Homo sapiens: one gene and its partners. The protein of the gene in region 1 interacts with the protein of each later gene in a biochemical or structural test. Each region holds a gene or a part of one and is shown in the gene's direction. Other genes may lie near its edges.

The links. Proteins that work in one complex are often made in the same cells at the same time.
Region 2: the proteins of SIRPA (region 1) and KRT10 form a complex in vitro, tested with the Homo sapiens proteins (one large-scale study listed by BioGRID).
Region 3: the proteins of SIRPA (region 1) and NUCB1 form a complex in vitro, tested with the Homo sapiens proteins (one large-scale study listed by BioGRID).
Region 4: the proteins of SIRPA (region 1) and TBX3 form a complex in vitro, tested with the Homo sapiens proteins (one large-scale study listed by BioGRID).

Annotation. Positions count from the first base shown.
Region 1 is NC_000020.11:1,911,493-1,916,715, forward strand, and holds part of SIRPA (tyrosine-protein phosphatase non-receptor type substrate 1 isoform 1 precursor), read left to right. Parts: exon of another isoform or gene 1-2,830; coding exon of another isoform or gene 2,831-2,909; intron 2,910-3,606; coding exon 3,607-3,963; intron 3,964-5,223. UniProt on the Homo sapiens protein: Immunoglobulin-like cell surface receptor for CD47. Acts as docking protein and induces translocation of PTPN6, PTPN11 and other binding partners from the cytosol to the plasma membrane.
Region 2 is NC_000017.11:40,819,225-40,825,014, reverse strand, and holds the start of KRT10 (keratin, type I cytoskeletal 10), read left to right. Parts: upstream 1-2,400; 5' UTR 2,401-2,429; coding exon 2,430-3,056; intron 3,057-3,897; coding exon 3,898-3,980; intron 3,981-4,347; coding exon 4,348-4,504; intron 4,505-4,591; coding exon 4,592-4,753; intron 4,754-4,840; coding exon 4,841-4,966; intron 4,967-5,280; coding exon 5,281-5,498; intron 5,499-5,735; exon of another isoform or gene 5,736-5,790. UniProt on the Homo sapiens protein: Plays a role in the establishment of the epidermal barrier on plantar skin.
Region 3 is NC_000019.10:48,909,179-48,914,401, forward strand, and holds part of NUCB1 (nucleobindin-1 precursor), read left to right. Parts: intron 1-1,751; exon of another isoform or gene 1,752-1,970; coding exon 1,971-2,074; intron 2,075-3,832; coding exon 3,833-4,018; intron 4,019-4,295; coding exon 4,296-4,386; intron 4,387-5,223. UniProt on the Homo sapiens protein: Major calcium-binding protein of the Golgi which may have a role in calcium homeostasis. Acts as a non-receptor guanine nucleotide exchange factor which binds to and activates alpha subunits of guanine nucleotide-binding proteins (G proteins).
Region 4 is NC_000012.12:114,669,165-114,673,098, reverse strand, and holds the end of TBX3 (T-box transcription factor TBX3), read left to right. Parts: intron 1-796; coding exon 797-1,258; 3' UTR 1,259-2,844; downstream 2,845-3,934.

The DNA of each region.
Region 1 (5,223 bases):
GTAATGGCTTGTTACGGCTGCCTGTAATTCCACATAGGGGATAGGCCGTAATTCACTTAACCATCCCCTATCATTGACCGGCTGGGCTTTTTCTAATGTCTTTAAGATCGTTATACAGGAAACCTACTCCATATCTGGGGTTACGTCCTCAGGGAGCAGCCCAGCAAAGGCTGGTGAACAGATTTCACACCTTTGGTTCATCCTGCCAAGCTGCTTTCCCGAAAAGATGTTCCAATTTCCCCTCCCACCGGCAGTGCGTGGGAATGCCTGCCCAGCCGCCCTCCTCTCCCTGAGACGGTTCAGGCCCCTGGACAGTCGCATCCTCTGCTAGGAGGGCAAGAGAAAGCAGGAAATAATTTGGCCAGCAAGTGACCCCAGACCCAGAGCCAGGAGTGATTTTTAACAAGCCTGATTCTCAGAACAGAACCTGCAGAGAAAAAGAAAGCAAGCAAGGAAAAAAAAAAAAAAACCCCTCTCTACTGGAAAAAACATACACATACACAGATTAAAATAATATTTGGCACTTACGTCGCACTTTTAAAATTCTTCAAACGCTTTATAAACACTAGCTAATTAATTAAGCCGCCTAAATCTGGCTGCAGTCGGTGGAGAGAGCTCGAGAGGAGCTAAAAAAAAAATGGGGGAGCCAGCGCTACACAACTCCAGATTTTATTGTCGCCTGCCTGGGGTGTGATTACAGGCCTCCGGCTGCACCACAAGAATAGCCCTGCTCCAACATGCTGCACGCCTGACTCCGCAGCCTCTCCTGCGCCTCCTGCTCCCTCACCAACTGCTGACTCACAGCCCCTTGTGGTGTTATTGATAAGGATAATAATAACTGCAAGCCAGGCTGAGTCCCGGGCTCCGGGCCTGCACCCTCCCCTGGATATGCCAGTATCAACTCCACCTAACACATGAAGAGAGAGGAGATTTGCCCAGGGTCATGGAGCCAACGACATCCTTCCTTCCTTCATTCATTACCGCATTCATTCTGCATATTTTTATCGATGACACTGTGTTTTAGGCAGGAGGTTGGAAACAGTCCCTTGTGGATCCTACATCCTACTATTGGGAATGTGACAATCCAGAGAAAATCAAATATGTGAATAATACAGCTATGTGATAATAATGGGAATAAGAATTAAAACTTACCCAGCACCTATGCAGCAGGCATACCACCGTGTCAGGGTCCTCATGACTGTGCTGGGGTGGATGCCGGAACCCCACTTCATGGATGATGGAATGGGGGTCCAGGGAAGGTGGGTACAGAGGTGGCTAAGAGGGGAGCCATGCTGTCACCCAGGCCTGCTGGCCCTAGCAACTGTGCTTCCCCGAGGCAGCCTTTCCAGTTGGTCCAGTCTCGAGGCTGAAATACAGACCTATCCGGAAAGTTCCTAGCTCAGTGCTGCTGGTGCTGCCTCTGATGTCCCCGCCTGGATGGGCCTCCCGGGCCTCCCACACATTTGGCCACCAGCCTCACCCCTCTCAGGCCGTCTGATGCTGGCTGGGCCTCTGTCCACTGTGGGTTCTGTCTGTCCACTGTGGGTTCTGTTTTTTTCTCCTGTGCCATGAAGATCTTGCCATGTTCAACTTCAAATGGAAATGAAATGAGAAGCTGGACTTCCTGATAATAAAAGCAGTTGAGGTCTTAAGTGGTTGATCAGGAAAAGGAAGTCGAAATGGTAATATTTACACCCAAAGCAGGTGGAGTGGTCTTAGGCACTCTGAGACTCCACTCACCTGCCATGAGAACCGGGCCCCAAGGGTGATCCCTTGCCAGAGTCAAGACTGGGTGAGGCTGGGAATGGGAGAAAGAGGCAGGACAATGGGCAGATAGCCCTGGGCTTCCTGCAGTGAGGGCAGATAGGGGTCTGTGAGCCTCTTTCCCTGGCTGCCCTGCCCCTGCCAGTGGGGTGGTGCCAGGCCATGGGTTGGTGGGCAAATTCACAGGGTCTCTCTCCTCCCCAGCCAGAGCCAGAGGGGCACAGCAGCTCTGGACATCTGCCGCAGCCTTGTCTGATGTACAAGGCAAAGGTGGCCCAGGTCAGGGCAGGACAAGGTCACATGAAGGGTCAGTGGAGAGCCCAACTGGGGCCCCAGGTCACCTGTCACCTGCATACCAGGTAGCTGCCACTCCTCTGTCTACCTGGTTCTCTCCTTCTCCCCTATTCTAGCTCGCTCTCTCACTCTGCGTCTGTCTCTCAGGCATGTGTTTCTCTGAGGTCTTTATGATCATGATCTTTCTTTTTTTTGTTTCTTGTACCTCACCTTGTTCAGAATCGAGGCCCTGGCTCTGCCTTGCTCTGAACTGTTCTCACTTGGTCCCTATCCATCTTCAACGCATCTCATGACAAGCTCGTCCTGCCCTCTTCCTGTCTGGGCTCCCCCCGTGCACCCCAATCTCTCCACCCAGGGTCCCTGTCTTGTGTGCCCCAGTGTCTCTGATTGGGGCTCAGGCTCCTGCAGCCAACCTCTACAATTCCTTCCAGCTGCCCATTTGGGAGCCCTTGAGGCCTGGACTGGGTCCAGCTCCAGTGTGTCCCCATCACAGTGAGGCCTGGATCACAGGGCATCAGCAGGTGTTGGTGAGAGTGAAGTTTGAGCCACAGCCACCTCCTTGTTTATTCAATGTATAGTAACAACAACTTCCTCAGGGCCCATCTCAGGGCTAAGTGACTTCTATGTGTGATCTCGTTTTCTTTTCAGAACAAAGCAGAGGCCTGGGGGCTGTTCTACCCATCCTGTAGATAAGAAAACTGAGACTCAAAACTGATGGATAAATTAAGGTCCCACAAGAACAAGGGGCGAGCCAGGTTTCAAACCAGGTCCGATGACTCTAAAGACCAGATGCTGCATTTGGACGCTGTCCCCAGCCTTGGCTTATTTTATCCTCCCAGAGATCCATCGAGGTGGGGTCATAGTAACTATTTTACAGATGAAGAAACCAAGGCTGAGAGCAGTAAGGGCAAACTAAGGGCAGCTCTTGCATTTGTGTGACACTTTGCTAGCCAGGCTCAGTCCTGGGTTCCAGGTGGGGACTCAAACACACTGGCACGAGTCTACATTGGATATTCTTGGTTACCTGAGTGGTGGCCCAAGGACACAGCTATAGGCCACTGATCCAGAACTCAAACTACATTCTCCTACTGCCCAAACCGCTGAGTACAGCCTCCCTTCTCGGGGCCTGCATCCTGGGCCAGGCCAGAAACAGAATCTTAACACCTTGTACAGCCCCAGATATGCCAGGCCCCTACCTCTGAGTCTTTGCCCAGGCTGTTCCCTCTGTCTGGAATACCAGGCTCCCTTCTGGCTCATTCAGATTAGAATTAGCCCAGCTCAGATGTGACTCTTCCAGAGAGGGTCCAGGCATTCAAACCCACTCTCTGCCATGTCATTTAGCTTTCTGTGCCTCAGTGTCCCCACTTAGAATACAGGCTCATGTTGCAGGTTTGTTGTGAGGGTCAAATGAGATGATACATGCACTATACTGATCTCACAGCCTGCTTCTGGTGTGCATCCAGTCAATGAACGTCATTGATAAACACTTGAGGAAACACAGAGGATCACGTAAGGATGAAAAAATGACTGCTTTGTGCTCCTTTCCAGGAGTGGCGGGTGAGGAGGAGCTGCAGGTGATTCAGCCTGACAAGTCCGTGTTGGTTGCAGCTGGAGAGACAGCCACTCTGCGCTGCACTGCGACCTCTCTGATCCCTGTGGGGCCCATCCAGTGGTTCAGAGGAGCTGGACCAGGCCGGGAATTAATCTACAATCAAAAAGAAGGCCACTTCCCCCGGGTAACAACTGTTTCAGACCTCACAAAGAGAAACAACATGGACTTTTCCATCCGCATCGGTAACATCACCCCAGCAGATGCCGGCACCTACTACTGTGTGAAGTTCCGGAAAGGGAGCCCCGATGACGTGGAGTTTAAGTCTGGAGCAGGCACTGAGCTGTCTGTGCGCGGTGAGTACAGCGTGGGCCTCCTTTGCCTCTGGTTTGTGACAGTAACTCAATAATAACACCCTCCATTCTTTGAGCAATGATCAGGTGTGGTGGTAGGTGCTCCTTTCCATGAATTGATGTCTCCCCCTTTTACAAATAAGGGAAGTTGAGGCCTGAAGACGTCATGCTATTTGCTGAAGGCTCCACAGCTGGTAAAGGGTGGGAACATCTGCATCCTTCATCTGCCTGGCTGTGTAGCCCTGGCCTCTTCAAAGCTGACCCAGCCCTTTCATTCCACAGATGAGGAAACTGACAGATAGTGTGACTTGCCCAGGCACAGGACCAGACCTCACCTGCTGCCTCCAGAGAGCACTTCCCTCTCAGGGCAGCCGAGTCTCCTCTATGTGACAGGCACTCACTGAGAACCTACTGTGTGCCAGGCTCCGCCAAGCTTGTGTTCTCATCCCTTCCAATAAGAGATCCACCCAGGGCAGGGAGCAGAGAGGGTGTGTTTCCTTTATTTCATCACCAAACACCAACTGAGAAGATTCCTAAAAGGCACAGATTTACTGTTTAATCTGATGGCCCTGGTGAGAGGAGAAGCCAGAGGGTTGGGCATTTTCTGTGGGTCTTTTAGAAAAACACTTGTGTGATTTAGGGACTGATTCATGCGTCACTAAAGGCTCTGAACAAAGCTGGGTCATCATAGAATGTCTCTCACCCCAGGGAGGAGGTCTCCCTTCTAGGTGACTTTGGGTTCCTCCGTTAAGGCAGCAAAGATGCTCATTTTGTATTTACTGCCAGAGCCCCAGGATCCTTGTTCTAACTCCGAATCCTGGGACATTAGTACAGGAAGGACCCTCAGACCATCCAGCCCAACCCCTAGTTACAGGTGGAAACTTGAAGTCAGGAGATGACAGGGGCCTTGTCCACAGTCATAGGCCCAGTTAGTGACAGGATCTGGACCAGAGCCCACATCTGATTCCAGGGAGGCTCCTTCATTAGCCATTGTTTACATAGAAGAGCCTGGTGCATCATAGGTGCCGACTGAAAGCTCCTTGAACAGAACTGCTAAGCAGGAAGCCAGCACTTCTCCTTTCCATCAGTTTCCTAAAGGTTCAGAATATTCACATTCAGACCGTTAGGCCCACTGGTGATTGGAAAACCGCTCCCAAATGTAAGCCATATCATTTGATACTGAGATTTCATATCAGGATAGAGACCTGCTCCATTGTGTAATAGCTACAGAATACTCCAGCTTATGGAAATACCAGATTTATT
Region 2 (5,790 bases), on another chromosome or scaffold:
CCCTTTCATATATTCTTTGGTTTAATATGATTGTAACAGAGCTCTCTTCATACCACTTGTTAATTAACTGAAAGGAGACTGGGATTTTTATATTTTCCACTGGGGGGAGAAATTATAGGCTAATACTAAAACAAAATTGGTAATACTAAGATCCAAAACTTGTGCTAATTACAGGTAAAATCAATCAAAATATCTTTTTAATTAAAATGTTTCTTTCCAAAAAGATTTCATTAATATCAAGGTTTCAACATGTTCTCTGAAGTTATTGGAGTTTTTTCTTTTCCTATCCTGATTTATCATAGCCTTCTTTAACTGTAGGTTATCTTCATCAAGAATCAATTCCCATGGTTGGGTTTCAGTTTTTCTTTTAACTACTGCCCCATTTGCATGTGCTAACAAGTTGGAAGAGTTGCAATCTGCTGGGTAGTAACCTCCACTTTAACAATCAACATTTGATTAATGCTCCCAACCACACTCCCTTCCCTACAGAAACTATTTCTGTAGTTTTCATAAACCAAAATGTGCAGCAATAAACTTAATTTGAAAAAACAATTACTAAAGGTAGAGTGTGTGCCAAATCATTACCCTTTGAATATTTTCATGATTCTAAGTTCTTTTTGTTTTGCTCTTTTTCCCCATTTGGAGAAGTTTACGGTGAGAATTAGAGTCATTCATCTCCATTAGACCAAATCCACTGGAGCAGATAATATATATACACATTGGTAAAGTGGAAAAGAACCAAGGAGTTAAAAGACCAAGCTTCTAATTGCAGTTCAACCACCTGTTACATATCTTCAGGAAAAAATCACAACCTCTCAACTTCAACTTCCTCTTCTATAAATTAGAAATAACAATAACCACACCTGTAACCCCAGCACTTTGGGAGGCCAAGGCAGGCAGATCAAGAGGTCAGGAGATTGAGACCATCCTGGCTAACATGATGAAACCCTGTCTCTACCAAAAAGACAAAAAATTAGCCAGGTATGGTGGCACACACCTGTAGCCCCAGCTACTCGGGAGGCTGAGGCAGGAGAATGGCGTGAACCCGGGAGGTGGAGCTTGCAGTGAGCCGAGATGGCGCCACTGCACTCCAGCCTGGGCGACAGAGCAAGCCTCCGTCTAAAAAAAAAAAAAGAAAGAAAGAAAGAAAGAAAGAAAAGAAATAATAATAACCACCATTCCTATCTCAACAGCTTGTTCTAGAAATTTTTAAAGCACAGTATCACAAACAGCACTACATAATTGTAAAACATGTATGAATATATACATCCAAACAACAGCAATGTCATAGCCTATGGGTAGATATAATCTTATACAATGTACCAAAATCCCAATTTACTTCACTAGACAAACTGTTATACCAAATTCTGTACACAGTATATCCAAGAAAATGTGTTGTTTTTATTGAGAAACTGAACCTAGCTTGGGAACACATGTGCACAGTCTAGTTCATAATATTTGGTGCAAGTATCATTCTCTAATATAGATTTACATTTTTGCAAGCAAATTTTTACTTGCAATCATAACATATCCAAATTTTCCCTTTTTACTCAATCAGAACTTAGTGTAAAGTACTACAAGTTAGTTCTTCGGATTTCATGCTAAGAAAATAATGCAGATTTTCTGCATTATTATGGTCTTCACAGAAACCTTAACTATGATGAATTTAAAAGTGCAAAATAATCCAGGATAACTTTATGATTTCAGATTTTTTAATGTTAAAAATAATGCCATCATTAATTAGAAAATTCTAAAATCATTACTTCCACTTTCTTAGGCAAAATATCAATATACTCTCATTTGCCAAATAAATTAAAAGATCTCCTACAAACACAATCTCCTAAATTGTGGTTTTATGGCTTTAATGTTTTATGTGTGGCAACTATTGATGCTAGTTAAATTTTTAGAAACTTTTTCTTTTTGATTCCCTACAGTTGTCTACAAGAACCTTATTGTAGCATGATCCTGCCAGACTTTATGCTATTTGTTGCTCCAATTAAAACTGTTTAAAACATGAATTTGAAAAATCTTATTTTAACTATAATTTTGTAGCTGAAACTTTTTTTTCTAAACTTTGCAAACATTCTATGCAACCTGAATTAGTGCTGAGAAAAATGGATCTTAACGGTTGCTCAATGTTCTTCAACAGGTGAAAAGCATAATAAAACATGCTCATCTGAACTCCACCCATTTTCAATTTCAACATAGCAAACCTCCTGTTTATTCTTAGGGCAAATTCAAAATTGTACATATTAGGATTGGTTATTACTGAAGATAATTTATGCAATCATAAGCCAAAGATGCTAAGTTGGCAAAAAGAAAACAATGTAAGTAAGCAAACTCTAACACATGTGGACACACCCTCTCAGTATATAAAGGCTTGTCACTGTCCTTGGTAGCAGGCACTCCCTGGGCTAAACAGCATCACCATGTCTGTTCGATACAGCTCAAGCAAGCACTACTCTTCCTCCCGCAGTGGAGGAGGAGGAGGAGGAGGAGGATGTGGAGGAGGAGGAGGAGTGTCATCCCTAAGAATTTCTAGCAGCAAAGGCTCCCTTGGTGGAGGATTTAGCTCAGGGGGGTTCAGTGGTGGCTCTTTTAGCCGTGGGAGCTCTGGTGGGGGCTGCTTTGGGGGCTCATCAGGTGGCTATGGAGGATTAGGAGGTTTTGGTGGAGGTAGCTTTCGTGGAAGCTATGGAAGTAGCAGCTTTGGTGGGAGTTATGGAGGCATCTTTGGAGGGGGCAGTTTCGGAGGTGGCAGCTTTGGTGGGGGCAGCTTTGGTGGAGGCGGCTTTGGTGGAGGCGGCTTTGGAGGAGGCTTTGGTGGTGGATTTGGAGGAGATGGTGGCCTTCTCTCTGGAAATGAAAAAGTAACCATGCAGAATCTGAATGACCGCCTGGCTTCCTACTTGGACAAAGTTCGGGCTCTGGAAGAATCAAACTATGAGCTGGAAGGCAAAATCAAGGAGTGGTATGAAAAGCATGGCAACTCACATCAGGGGGAGCCTCGTGACTACAGCAAATACTACAAAACCATCGATGACCTTAAAAATCAGGTAAGAGGTATTTTTAAATCCAGCTTTAAGTATCTTGTCCATGTAATCCAGACAGATGAATCTTAAATTAAGCACAATGTGGCTGTTCACTATGCTTACCCATGTTACTTTCTTCCTTCAAAAATAACCCAGTCTCATCAAAGATAAACATCTGTGAAACTATGGTCATGGCAATCTTCATCCAGCAAGTGTGCTACTTGTCTTAAGAGGATGGGAGATTTACTAAGCACTTTTGAGGTTTTAATGAGCATACAATGAGTCCACAGTTAAAATATGCTAGGCTATTTACAAATGTAGAAACTGAAAAAAAAAATCATGATATGAATCAGAACAAAATGTTATTCAGACTGATAACAAGCCATATTCAGTACCAACATGGCAAGAAAAATAAATTTTCCAGTATGAAAATGGGACACTGCTTGCCTCTAAGGAATTTCTGAATTGTACCTATTGTGTACCAGTTCAGAGTGTATTTATTTATTAGTATTTATCATGAGTTAAACAAATGCAGGTGTGAGTCAGCCAAAGCATGGCTGAAATACATGGAAATCACATAGTCTAAAAGAGGAGGGCACACTTACAGGAATACATCTATATAATTCCAGTTAGTTTTCAGAAAGGAATAATTCGTGTACAGAAATACAAGACTGGAGAAATTCCAAGAGAACAAATAATTCAAAGTTAAGTATATGGGTAAGCCTGCAATATTTCATATTTAAAATAAAAAATTTTCCCAAGATTTTGTAAGAGAACAACATAAAAGTGCAGAGTGCATCTATGTCACTACAAAAGCCATATCTGCATCTGACCTCTTCTCAAATAACTGTGCCTCTCCCTCCAGATTCTCAACCTAACAACTGATAATGCCAACATCCTGCTTCAGATCGACAATGCCAGGCTGGCAGCTGATGACTTCAGGCTGAAGTAAGTTAAGTGATCGTTGTATAATACTATCACAACGAATACATCAGTGGTTTTTAACAATGACTTGGGATGCCCTCAATAACATTTACATTTTTCTGAATTCACCCAAAGTTAAATAGTATTGGAGTTATCTGAGAAATTTTCCATGTCAGTGTTACCTTTTTGGCAATATTAAAGGAAGAAAATGCATTTTAAAGTAACTGCTAAGGTTTTTTCCATTAAACCACTATTACTTCTAAGAGAACTGTACATGACAAATATTGCCATTACATGAGATCAACTATGTAGCTGCTTTTTAAATAGTCTCTGCCCAGATACATCTCCCCTATATAAGTTATAACCAGTATTGATATCATGCTTGTTTCAGGTATGAGAATGAGGTAGCTCTGCGCCAGAGCGTGGAGGCTGACATCAACGGCCTGCGTAGGGTGCTGGATGAGCTGACCCTGACCAAGGCTGACCTGGAGATGCAAATTGAGAGCCTGACTGAAGAGCTGGCCTATCTGAAGAAGAACCACGAGGAGGTGACACAAAAGTTATACTTTTCCCAGCCAAAAGAGAGTTCATTATGGTCCTCGTGTAGCCAATAAATCTTTCTGTTCCTCAAACAGGAAATGAAAGACCTTCGAAATGTGTCCACTGGTGATGTGAATGTGGAAATGAATGCTGCCCCGGGTGTTGATCTGACTCAACTTCTGAATAACATGAGAAGCCAATATGAACAACTTGCTGAACAAAACCGCAAAGATGCTGAAGCCTGGTTCAATGAAAAGGTAAAGTAATCTTCCTTATAGTGAAACTCATGGAGGTTTTATCATTTCAGAATTTCCTCACCCTTTTCCTTGTTTTTAATACTCTAGAGCAAGGAACTGACTACAGAAATTGATAATAACATTGAACAGATATCCAGCTATAAATCTGAGATTACTGAATTGAGACGTAATGTACAAGCTCTGGAGATAGAACTACAGTCCCAACTGGCCTTGGTATGTTAACTCTCATGAAATGACTTCAACTTTATCATACAAAGTTTCATGCTCACCTAAGAATATGCAATGCAACAAAAAAATGCAGAGTTGGAGGTAAGAAAGAGAAAACAAAGTGAAGCTCATGTTAATGGAGGAAAAGTACTACTAGTGTTGATCTAAAAGTGCTGAAACTGAAATGGTGCCATTAAACATACAACAAATTCTGTTCATTTTCTTATTCTTCTATATAATGCCTTACTAAATAATCAAATAAGCGTCACCATACTCAACTGAACAAGGAAGTCACTAAGCCACAAAAAAATCCGTTTCAGAAACAATCCCTGGAAGCCTCCTTGGCAGAAACAGAAGGTCGCTACTGTGTGCAGCTCTCACAGATTCAGGCCCAGATATCCGCTCTGGAAGAACAGTTGCAACAGATTCGAGCTGAAACCGAGTGCCAGAATACTGAATACCAACAACTCCTGGATATTAAGATCCGACTGGAGAATGAAATTCAAACCTACCGCAGCCTGCTAGAAGGAGAGGGAAGGTAAATTTTAAAATGAAAAGTTATCCCAGTTTCTTTTATTCAATATTCCAGATAGCAAGGCTTATCTAAACCCCAAGAAGATGCCAGAGAATGAGAGGAAGGGAGGAGAGAGGGTAGAGTACAGAAAAAGGAGTACGCAACCGCAATCTCACTTTCTCATGAATTTGGCCCAAAATGATTCTTAAGAGTTCTGTGAACTTAACATTGTTTTCAAAGGATGGGTTTTAAAATATATACCTGGCAGGGTTTTATTTTTTCAACACGTTTTGCTTATTTTCTAAATTAACGGCAA
Region 3 (5,223 bases), on another chromosome or scaffold:
CTTTCCTCTCTGTGTGCCTGGCCCAAATTTCTCCTTCCATTATTATTTTTTATTAATTATTATTATTATTATTTTTTTTTTTTTCCAAGACAGAGTTTTGCTCTCGTTGCCCAGGCTGGAGTGCGGTGGCGCGATCTCAGCTCACTGCAACCTCTGCCTCCCAGGTTCAAGCGATTCTCCTGCCTCAGACTCCTAAGTAGCTGGGATTACAAGCACGCGCCACCACGCCTGGATAATTTTGTATTTTTAGTACAGATGGAGTTTTGCCATGTTGGGCAGGCTGGTTTCGAATTCCTGACCTCAGGTGATCCACCCGCCTTGGCCTCCCAAAGTGCTAGGATTACAGGTGTGAGCCACCGCGCCCGGCCTATTATTATTTTGAGACAGGGTTTCACTTCTATCCTCCAGGCTAGAGTGCAGTGGTGCGATCTCGGCTCACTGCATCCTCCCCCTCCCACGCTCAAGTGATTCTCCTGCCTTAGCCTCCTGAGCAGCTGGGACTACAGGCACACACCACTGCACACAGCTAATTTTTATATTTTTTGTAGAGATGGGGTTTCACCATGTTGCCCACGCTGGTCTCGAATGCCTGAGCCCAAGTGATCCTCCCACCTCAGTCTCCCAAAGTGCTGGGATTACAGGCATGAGCCACTGTGCCCAGTCATAAATTTCTGCCTTTTATAAGGTCACCAATCATGTTGGATTAGGGCCCACAGTAATGACCTCATCTTAACCTGATTCCCTCTGTAAAGACCTAGTCTCCAAATCAGGTCACATTCTGAGGTACTGGGGCTTAGGACTTCAACATAGAAACTTAGGAGCGTGCAATTTAACCCCTAAGATTGGTTGATGCTTTATCAAAAATTTTGATGTTTTTCTTTTGTTTGTATGTATGTATTTATTTTATTTATTTATTTTTCAGACGGAGTCTCACTCTGTCACCAGGCTGGTGCAGTGGCGTGATCTCGGCTCACTGCAACCTCCGCCTCCCAGGTTCCAGTGATTCCCCTGCCTCAGCCTCCCAAGTAGCTGGGGCTACAGGTGCGCACCACCATGCCCAGCTAATTTTTTATGTTTTTATTAGAGATGGGGTTTCACCATGTTGGCCAGGATGGTCTCAATCTCTTGATCTTGTGATCCGCCCCCCTTGGCCTCCCAAAGTGCTGGGATTACAGGCGTGAGCCACCGCACCCAGCCTTGTTTGTTTTTTTTAAAGAGTGGTTGAGGCTGGGCGTGGTGGCTCACACCTGTAATCACAACACTTTGGGAGGCCGAGGTGGGTGGATCACCTGAGGTCAGGAGTTCAAGACCAGCCTGGCCAACATGGTGAAACCCTGTTTCTGTTTCTACTAAAAATACAAAAATTAGCCGAGTGTGGTGGCATGCACCTGTAGTCCCAGTTACTCGGGGCTGAGGCAGGAGGATTGCTTGAGCCTGGGAGGCGGAGGTTGCAGCGAGCCGAGATCCTGCCACTGCAGAGTGAAACCCTGTCTCAAAAAAAAAAAAAAAGAAGGAAAAGAAAAAAAGAAATGGTTGAGTGTCATGGTTTTTGGATGTCCAATGGCTGGTTCCCATCCTTGCTCTGCCACTTGCTAGCTGGTACCCTAGACCAGTCACAACCCCTCAAGGGGTCTCAGTTTTCACATTCATAAAATGGGGATAATCATAAAACCCTTGTTGTCAGGATTTTGTGGAAAGTGAATGAATTAATACAGTTAAAGTGCTTAGGGCATGGCCTGGCATCTAGTAAGTAGGCACTACATGTTAGTTTTTATTATGGTTATTATTGTAAGCATCAGACTCAGTCGTGGGATCACCTCCTCCAGGAAGCCTTCCCTGATTGCCCCAGGTTCAAGCTGTCTTCTGGGCTTCCCTAGTGCTGTCCGTGACTTCTTTGGATCATGTCTGGCCCAAGATGGGGGTTCTGAAAGAACATGCCCTCAGGTGTTGGACTCTTCCCTCTCTTCCAGATGTACAGGTGGATCATCTGAATCTCCTGAAACAGTTTGAACACCTGGACCCTCAGAACCAGCATACATTCGAGGCCCGCGACCTGGAGCTGCTGATCCAGACGGTAATGGGAGTGGGTCCGGAGGCAGAGGATTGAGGGTAGCTTTGCGGAAGGGGAGAAGGGGACAGAGTCCCAGACGTGAGCCAGCTCACCATTCCTGCTGGTGTTCTCTGAGGTTGGAGGCTGGTAGAGGGCTGAGTCGTTTCTTTTCTTTTCTTTTTTTTTTTTTTTTTGAGACGAAATCTCGCTGTTTTCCCCCAGGCTGGAGTGCAATGGCACAATCTCGGCTCACTGCAACCTCCGCCTCCCGGGTTCAAGCGATTCTCCTGCCTCAGCCTCCCGAGTAGCTAGGATTACAGGTGCCTGCCGTCACGCCCAGAAAATTTTTGTATTTTTAGTAGAGACAGGGTTTCACCATGTTGGCCAGGCTGGTCTCGAACTCCTGACCTCAGGTGATCCACCCGCCTCAGCCTCCCAAAGTGCTGGGATTACAAGTGTCAGCCACCGCACCCAGCTCTTCTTATAGTGATACCCACCGTAATCTAGCAGGCCATCATCTTAACTAATTACATCTGCAAACACTCTATTTCCAAATAAGATCACATTCTGAGATTCCAGGTGGACATGAATTTGGGAGTGTGGGGGGAGTATACTGTTCAACCTGGTATTGTTAACTCCATTTTACAGAGGTGGAAACTGAGGCACAAAGAGGCTGAGTAACTTGCCCAGTGTCACAGAGCTTATGAGATTTGGTCACAAAGCAAAGCCTAGATTTGAACGCTGGGCAAAATAGTTAGAAACCTCTTGTTCTTTTTTTGGTTTATTTTTACTTTTTTTTTTTTTTTTTTTACCTGAGACAGCGTCTTGCTCTGATGCCCAGGCTGGAGTGCAGTGGCATGATCACAGCTCACTGCAGCCTCAACCTCCTGGGCTCAAGCAATCCTCCCACCTGACCCTCCTGAGTAGCTGGGACCAGAGGTGCAAGCCACCGCACCAGGCTAATTTTAAAAATTTTTAGTAGACACAAGGTCTCGCTGTGTTATGTGAGTTAGTCTTGAACTCCCGGGCTCGAGTGATCCTCCCACCCTAGCCTCCCAAAGTGCTAGGATTCCAGGCGTGACCCACCTCTCCTAGTCTGACCTTATGTTCTTGGCCACCTAGCTGTACCTGAAATACATAAATACTAAGTTCACCACATATGTTGTTCCTATTTACTTATTCCTCCAAGATCTGGAGATTGTGGAGGACTTGAAAGAGGTGGGTTGAAGTTGCTATTGTATAACCGTCCCAATCTGTTTTGAATAAAGAGAAGAAAGTGTGTTATGGGGCAGGAGCAGTCATGGAAACCAAAAAGGGCGACATCAGGCTGTGCGCGATGGCTCACGCCTATAATCCCAGCACTTTGGGAGGCTGACGTGGGCGGATCACCTGAGGTCAGGAGTTTGAGACCAGCCTGGCCAACATGGTGAAACCTCGTTTCTACTAAAAATACAAAAATCAGCTGGGCCTGGTGACACATGCCTATAATCCCAGCTACTCGAAAGGCCGAGGCAGGAGAATCACTTGAACCCGGAAGACAGAGGTTGAAGTGAGGCAGTGAGCAGAGATTGTGCCACCGCACTCCAGCCTGGGCAACAGAGCAAGACTCCCTCTCAAAAAAAAAAAAAAAAAAAGGGACATTAGGACACGAGACGTAAGAAAGACAGGTAGAGGCTGGGGCTGCCCTCAGCCAGGTTCAGGGCCAAGGGCCTGCCATTTACAGGCTGGAATTGGGGGCTGGGCAGAGGGGGCAGAGGGGAATGACCCTGTGCCTTTCCCCAGGCCACCCGGGACCTTGCCCAGTACGACGCAGCCCATCATGAAGAGTTCAAGCGCTACGAGATGCTTAAGGAACACGAGAGACGGCGTTATCTGGAGTCACTGGGAGAGGAGCAGAGAAAGGAGGCGGAGAGGAAGCTGGAAGAGCAACAGCGCCGGCACCGCGAGCACCCTAAAGTCAACGTGCCTGTGAGGACCCCATTTGTGCCCATCCACTCCCTACCACATCCAGTTCAAACGCAAGACAAGAAAGCAGTTAAAGAACTACAATTCCCAGGGGCCCTTGAGGCAAAAAAACTCCCTGTTACTGTACCTGGCTGCCCCAGGGTCTGCTGGGAGTTGTAGTTTTCTTAGTTTTCTTGCTTGAGGGAGATGATGTTTGTTGGATGAGGGTAAAGGGATATTTGGTTTTATCCCATGGCATCCAGACTTCTTGCTCATGAGCTCCTGGCTCTCCCCTCCACAGGGCAGCCAAGCCCAGTTGAAGGAGGTGTGGGAGGAGCTGGATGGACTGGACCCCAACAGGTTTAACCCCAAGACCTTCTTCATACTGCATGGTAAGGTGGGGAGGGAGTTCCAGAGCCAGGATGAACCCTAGATTCTGACCCTTCTAGGACCTGAATGCTAAGAGGGGTGTGTCTGTCCCAGGAGGGCTTAGTCAGGCCCAAGAGCCAAGCCTATGTCCCCTGGTTGACCAGACAGCCCTGCCTCTCCCGACTACAAGGCTAGGATCTGCATGGAAGGGTTGGGCCTCTTTTCTAGCAAACACCAGACCTCGGGGTTCTAAGGACAGCTGGTGTCCTCTGTAAGCAAACCAGGCTTGGCTAGGCCTGGGCCCTCTGCCCACAGCAGCCCAGGAGAAGCCCTGGTCCACTCTGGGAACCCTGTCGCTAGGAGTGGGTTGTTCCCTAAGAACCAGGCCTCCAGAAGCCTGGAAAACCCTTTCTCTTTTTCTTTTTCCTTTTTTTTTTTTTTTTTGAGATGGAGTCTTGCTCTGTTGCCCAGGCTGGAGTGCAGTGGCATGACCTCGGCTCACTGCAACCCCCTGCCCTCCGCCTCCCGGGTTCAAGTGATTCTCCTGCCTCAGCCTCCCGAGTAGCTGGGATTACAGGCATGCACCACCATGCCCGGCTAACTTTTGTATTTTTAGTAGAGATGGGGTTTCACCATGTTGGCCAGGCTGGTCTCGAACTCCCAACCTCGTGTGATCTGCCCCCTCAGCATCCCAAAGTGCTAGGATTACAGGCGTGAGTCACTGCGCCCGGCCTCGAAAGCCCTTTCTCTATGGTGGATCAAAGGCACACTCCCCTCAGTCTGTCTCTTCCTGTCTGGAAATGTGGCCTGGGGTTGCCAAGCCCCCTCAGGTATGCCAAGCACCCTGTCCCAGAATCTGT
Region 4 (3,934 bases), on another chromosome or scaffold:
GGCACCTCAAGGCATGATGCAGAGAACTGGCCCAGGCCAGGGTGCCTGCATCTTAAATGCTGCTTCTGCCAATTCCCAGCTTAGTGCACTCCTGAACTCCTGCGGCCTACCTCGGCTTCTCACCTGGAACACCAGTGAATCATGCTGGACGATTTCTTTGTCTCTGTTTATAACAAATGCCCTTTTTCCCTCCCCCAGCCCCAGTTTCCTTTTGCTTAAGATCTTCACTGTCTGTTTTTTTTGTTTTGTTTTGTTTTGTTTGGAGAAACTTCTAGGATTGGGGTGGGAGGATGGGGGTTGGGGAAGAAGAAAGATTTAAAAAATTATTCCTACTAATTTATGTCCTCCGGCTTCCCCTTGGTTACCTCTGTGGGGTAAACTGAATCTGTATCCCCATTTAACAGGTGCAAGGAGATTTCCTGGGGGCTGCACACACTGTGTGCAGCATATTGCAGGCTTTCACTCATTTAATATCTACAAAGTCCTCAATAAGTATATGAATTACTTATGATTTCCCTGTTTTTTCTTCCTATAAGGAAGCTGAGGCACAAGTTAATCAAAGTCTCTTGGCCTAGGGTGACACAGCTAAGATTTGTACCTAGAGATTTCTGAGTGTTGACTTCTCTCCTGCCCCCACCTATCTCCCCCCCCAAAAAAAAAAACACAACAACAACAACAACAGAACATACCAGGGATTCATGGCTTGCCCAATGTTGGAGGGGGAGAAGAGAGGAGAGGGATGAGATAAGCTCCTCCCACCCGGCTGACTCGCTGTGTGTCTCTTTTCTCACCCCAGGGCCTGGCCATGTCCCCTTTCGGAAGCCTGTTCCCTTACCCCTACACGTACATGGCCGCAGCGGCGGCCGCCTCCTCTGCGGCAGCCTCCAGCTCGGTGCACCGCCACCCCTTCCTCAATCTGAACACCATGCGCCCGCGGCTGCGCTACAGCCCCTACTCCATCCCGGTGCCGGTCCCGGACGGCAGCAGTCTGCTCACCACCGCCCTGCCCTCCATGGCGGCGGCCGCGGGGCCCCTGGACGGCAAAGTCGCCGCCCTGGCCGCCAGCCCGGCCTCGGTGGCAGTGGACTCGGGCTCTGAACTCAACAGCCGCTCCTCCACGCTCTCCTCCAGCTCCATGTCCTTGTCGCCCAAACTCTGCGCGGAGAAAGAGGCGGCCACCAGCGAACTGCAGAGCATCCAGCGGTTGGTTAGCGGCTTGGAAGCCAAGCCGGACAGGTCCCGCAGCGCGTCCCCGTAGACCCGTCCCAGACACGTCTTTTCATTCCAGTCCAGTTCAGGCTGCCGTGCACTTTGTCGGATATAAAATAAACCACGGGCCCGCCATGGCGTTAGCCCTTCCTTTTGCAGTTGCGTCTGGGAAGGGGCCCCGGACTCCCTCGAGAGAATGTGCTAGAGACAGCCCCTGTCTTCTTGGCGTGGTTTATATGTCCGGGATCTGGATCAGATTCTGGGGGCTCAGAAACGTCGGTTGCATTGAGCTACTGGGGGTAGGAGTTCCAACATTTATGTCCAGAGCAACTTCCAGCAAGGCTGGTCTGGGTCTCTGCCCACCAGGCGGGGAGGTGTTCAAAGACATCTCCCTCAGTGCGGATTTATATATATATTTTTCCTTCACTGTGTCAAGTGGAAACAAAAACAAAATCTTTCAAAAAAAAAATCGGGACAAGTGAACACATTAACATGATTCTGTTTGTGCAGATTAAAAACTTTATAGGGACTTGCATTATCGGTTCTCAATAAATTACTGAGCAGCTTTGTTTGGGGAGGGAAGTCCCTACCATCCTTGTTTAGTCTATATTAAGAAAATCTGTGTCTTTTTAATATTCTTGTGATGTTTTCAGAGCCGCTGTAGGTCTCTTCTTGCATGTCCACAGTAATGTATTTGTGGTTTTTATTTTGAACGCTTGCTTTTAGAGAGAAAACAATATAGCCCCCTACCCTTTTCCCAATCCTTTGCCCTCAAATCAGTGACCCAAGGGAGGGGGGGATTTAAAGGGAAGGAGTGGGCAAAACACATAAAATGAATTTATTATATCTAAGCTCTGTAGCAGGATTCATGTCGTTCTTTGACAGTTCTTTCTCTTTCCTGTATATGCAATAACAAGGTTTTAAAAAAATAATAAAGAAGTGAGACTATTAGACAAAGTATTTATGTAATTATTTGATAACTCTTGTAAATAGGTGGAATATGAATGCTTGGAAAATTAAACTTTAATTTATTGACATTGTACATAGCTCTGTGTAAATAGAATTGCAACTGTCAGGTTTTGTGTTCTTGTTTTCCTTTAGTTGGGTTTATTTCCAGGTCACAGAATTGCTGTTAACACTAGAAAACACACTTCCTGCACCAACACCAATACCCTTTCAAAAGAGTTGTCTGCAACATTTTTGTTTTCTTTTTTAATGTCCAAAAGTGGGGGAAAGTGCTATTTCCTATTTTCACCAAAATTGGGGAAGGAGTGCCACTTTCCAGCTCCACTTCAAATTCCTTAAAATATAACTGAGATTGCTGTGGGGAGGGAGGAGGGCAGAGGCTGCGGTTTGACTTTTTAATTTTTCTTTTGTTATTTGTATTTGCTAGTCTCTGATTTCCTCAAAACGAAGTGGAATTTACTACTGTTGTCAGTATCGGTGTTTTGAATTGGTGCCTGCCTATAGAGATATATTCACAGTTCAAAAGTCAGGTGCTGAGAGATGGTTTAAAGACAAATTCATGAAGGTATATTTTGTGTTATAGTTGTTGATGAGTTCTTTGGTTTTCTGTATTTTTCCCCCTCTCTTTAAAACATCACTGAAATTTCAATAAATTTTTATTGAAATGTCTTTGGGCCTTGTGTTAAATGTTTTTTCTTTGGGAACCTTTCCTGAAGATGGACAGTCAGGGGAGGGTTTAGTATCTTCTTGTTCTGAGTTTACCCCCTTCCCTTCGCCTTTAAATAATTAAGACCGCCCCCAGCGAACCAAAATGAGATGTCACTCAAGTTACAAAGCTAAAAACAAAAGTCCCTTACTTGAGCGAAGGGAGCCACTTCAATCTGAAATTACTTTTCCTTTAAATTAGGGAGCAAAGCAGGGAGACGGAAAGGGGCCTGATGAGAATACAGAAAGAAGGGTAATTTCAGATACTTTTAAGTTTTAATGGAAAAAGACTGATGTGCTCCCTAAGTCAGGTTTTCCCACCCGAATCCGACCAAAAGTAAGCTCGGCAAGTACGAATGTTTTTCGTTTTAAGCTCGCCCTCAGTTTTGACATCAATCTGGCGAATCCAAGTCGAAAATACCTTCTTGCACCAGTGTGTTTGGCTCGGGGAAAAGGCCAGCAGAATGCCCCAGCAGTCCGAGCGGGCTTGGCTAGGCAGCAACCCTCCAGGTTGTAGAAGTGGACAAGACGCAACGCCTTTCCACTCGGCAACCCCCCACACAGCCTGCAGTCCCTGGTGCCTCAAATTGAACCCGGCTGGCCCAAGGCGCCCCTACGAGGCCCCATCCATCCCGAGTTGTGCGTGCAAAGCGCGGCCAGCTCCGCGAAAACTTAGCTGTGTCACGCGAGGGAGGAGGGAAATTATCCCCGAAAGGGGAAAGGTAATTCCAGGGTGCACATTTCACCCCCTCCACGGCAAAAGTCACCCAGGAGGCTGACATCCTCCCCTAGTCTCCCCTTCAAACCCGTCTCCAGGCTGTTCGGGGAGTTGCCTTTTGAAGTTCAATTTATCTTTGAAACATTCAATAAAAAATGATGAGGCACTGTCAGTCTTTTGGTCTCCCGACCCCCAGCCTCGCCTCCGAGGTGTGTGTCTGTTGGGGGGCGGGGGCGGCACGGGAAGGTTCGAGGGTTAGTCCTTAGCCCTTTTCTTGCCCTGGGGGCCATGACGTGAAGACCCAGCTGGAGCCTGCCTGGCGGCTGCCTCCCTCCC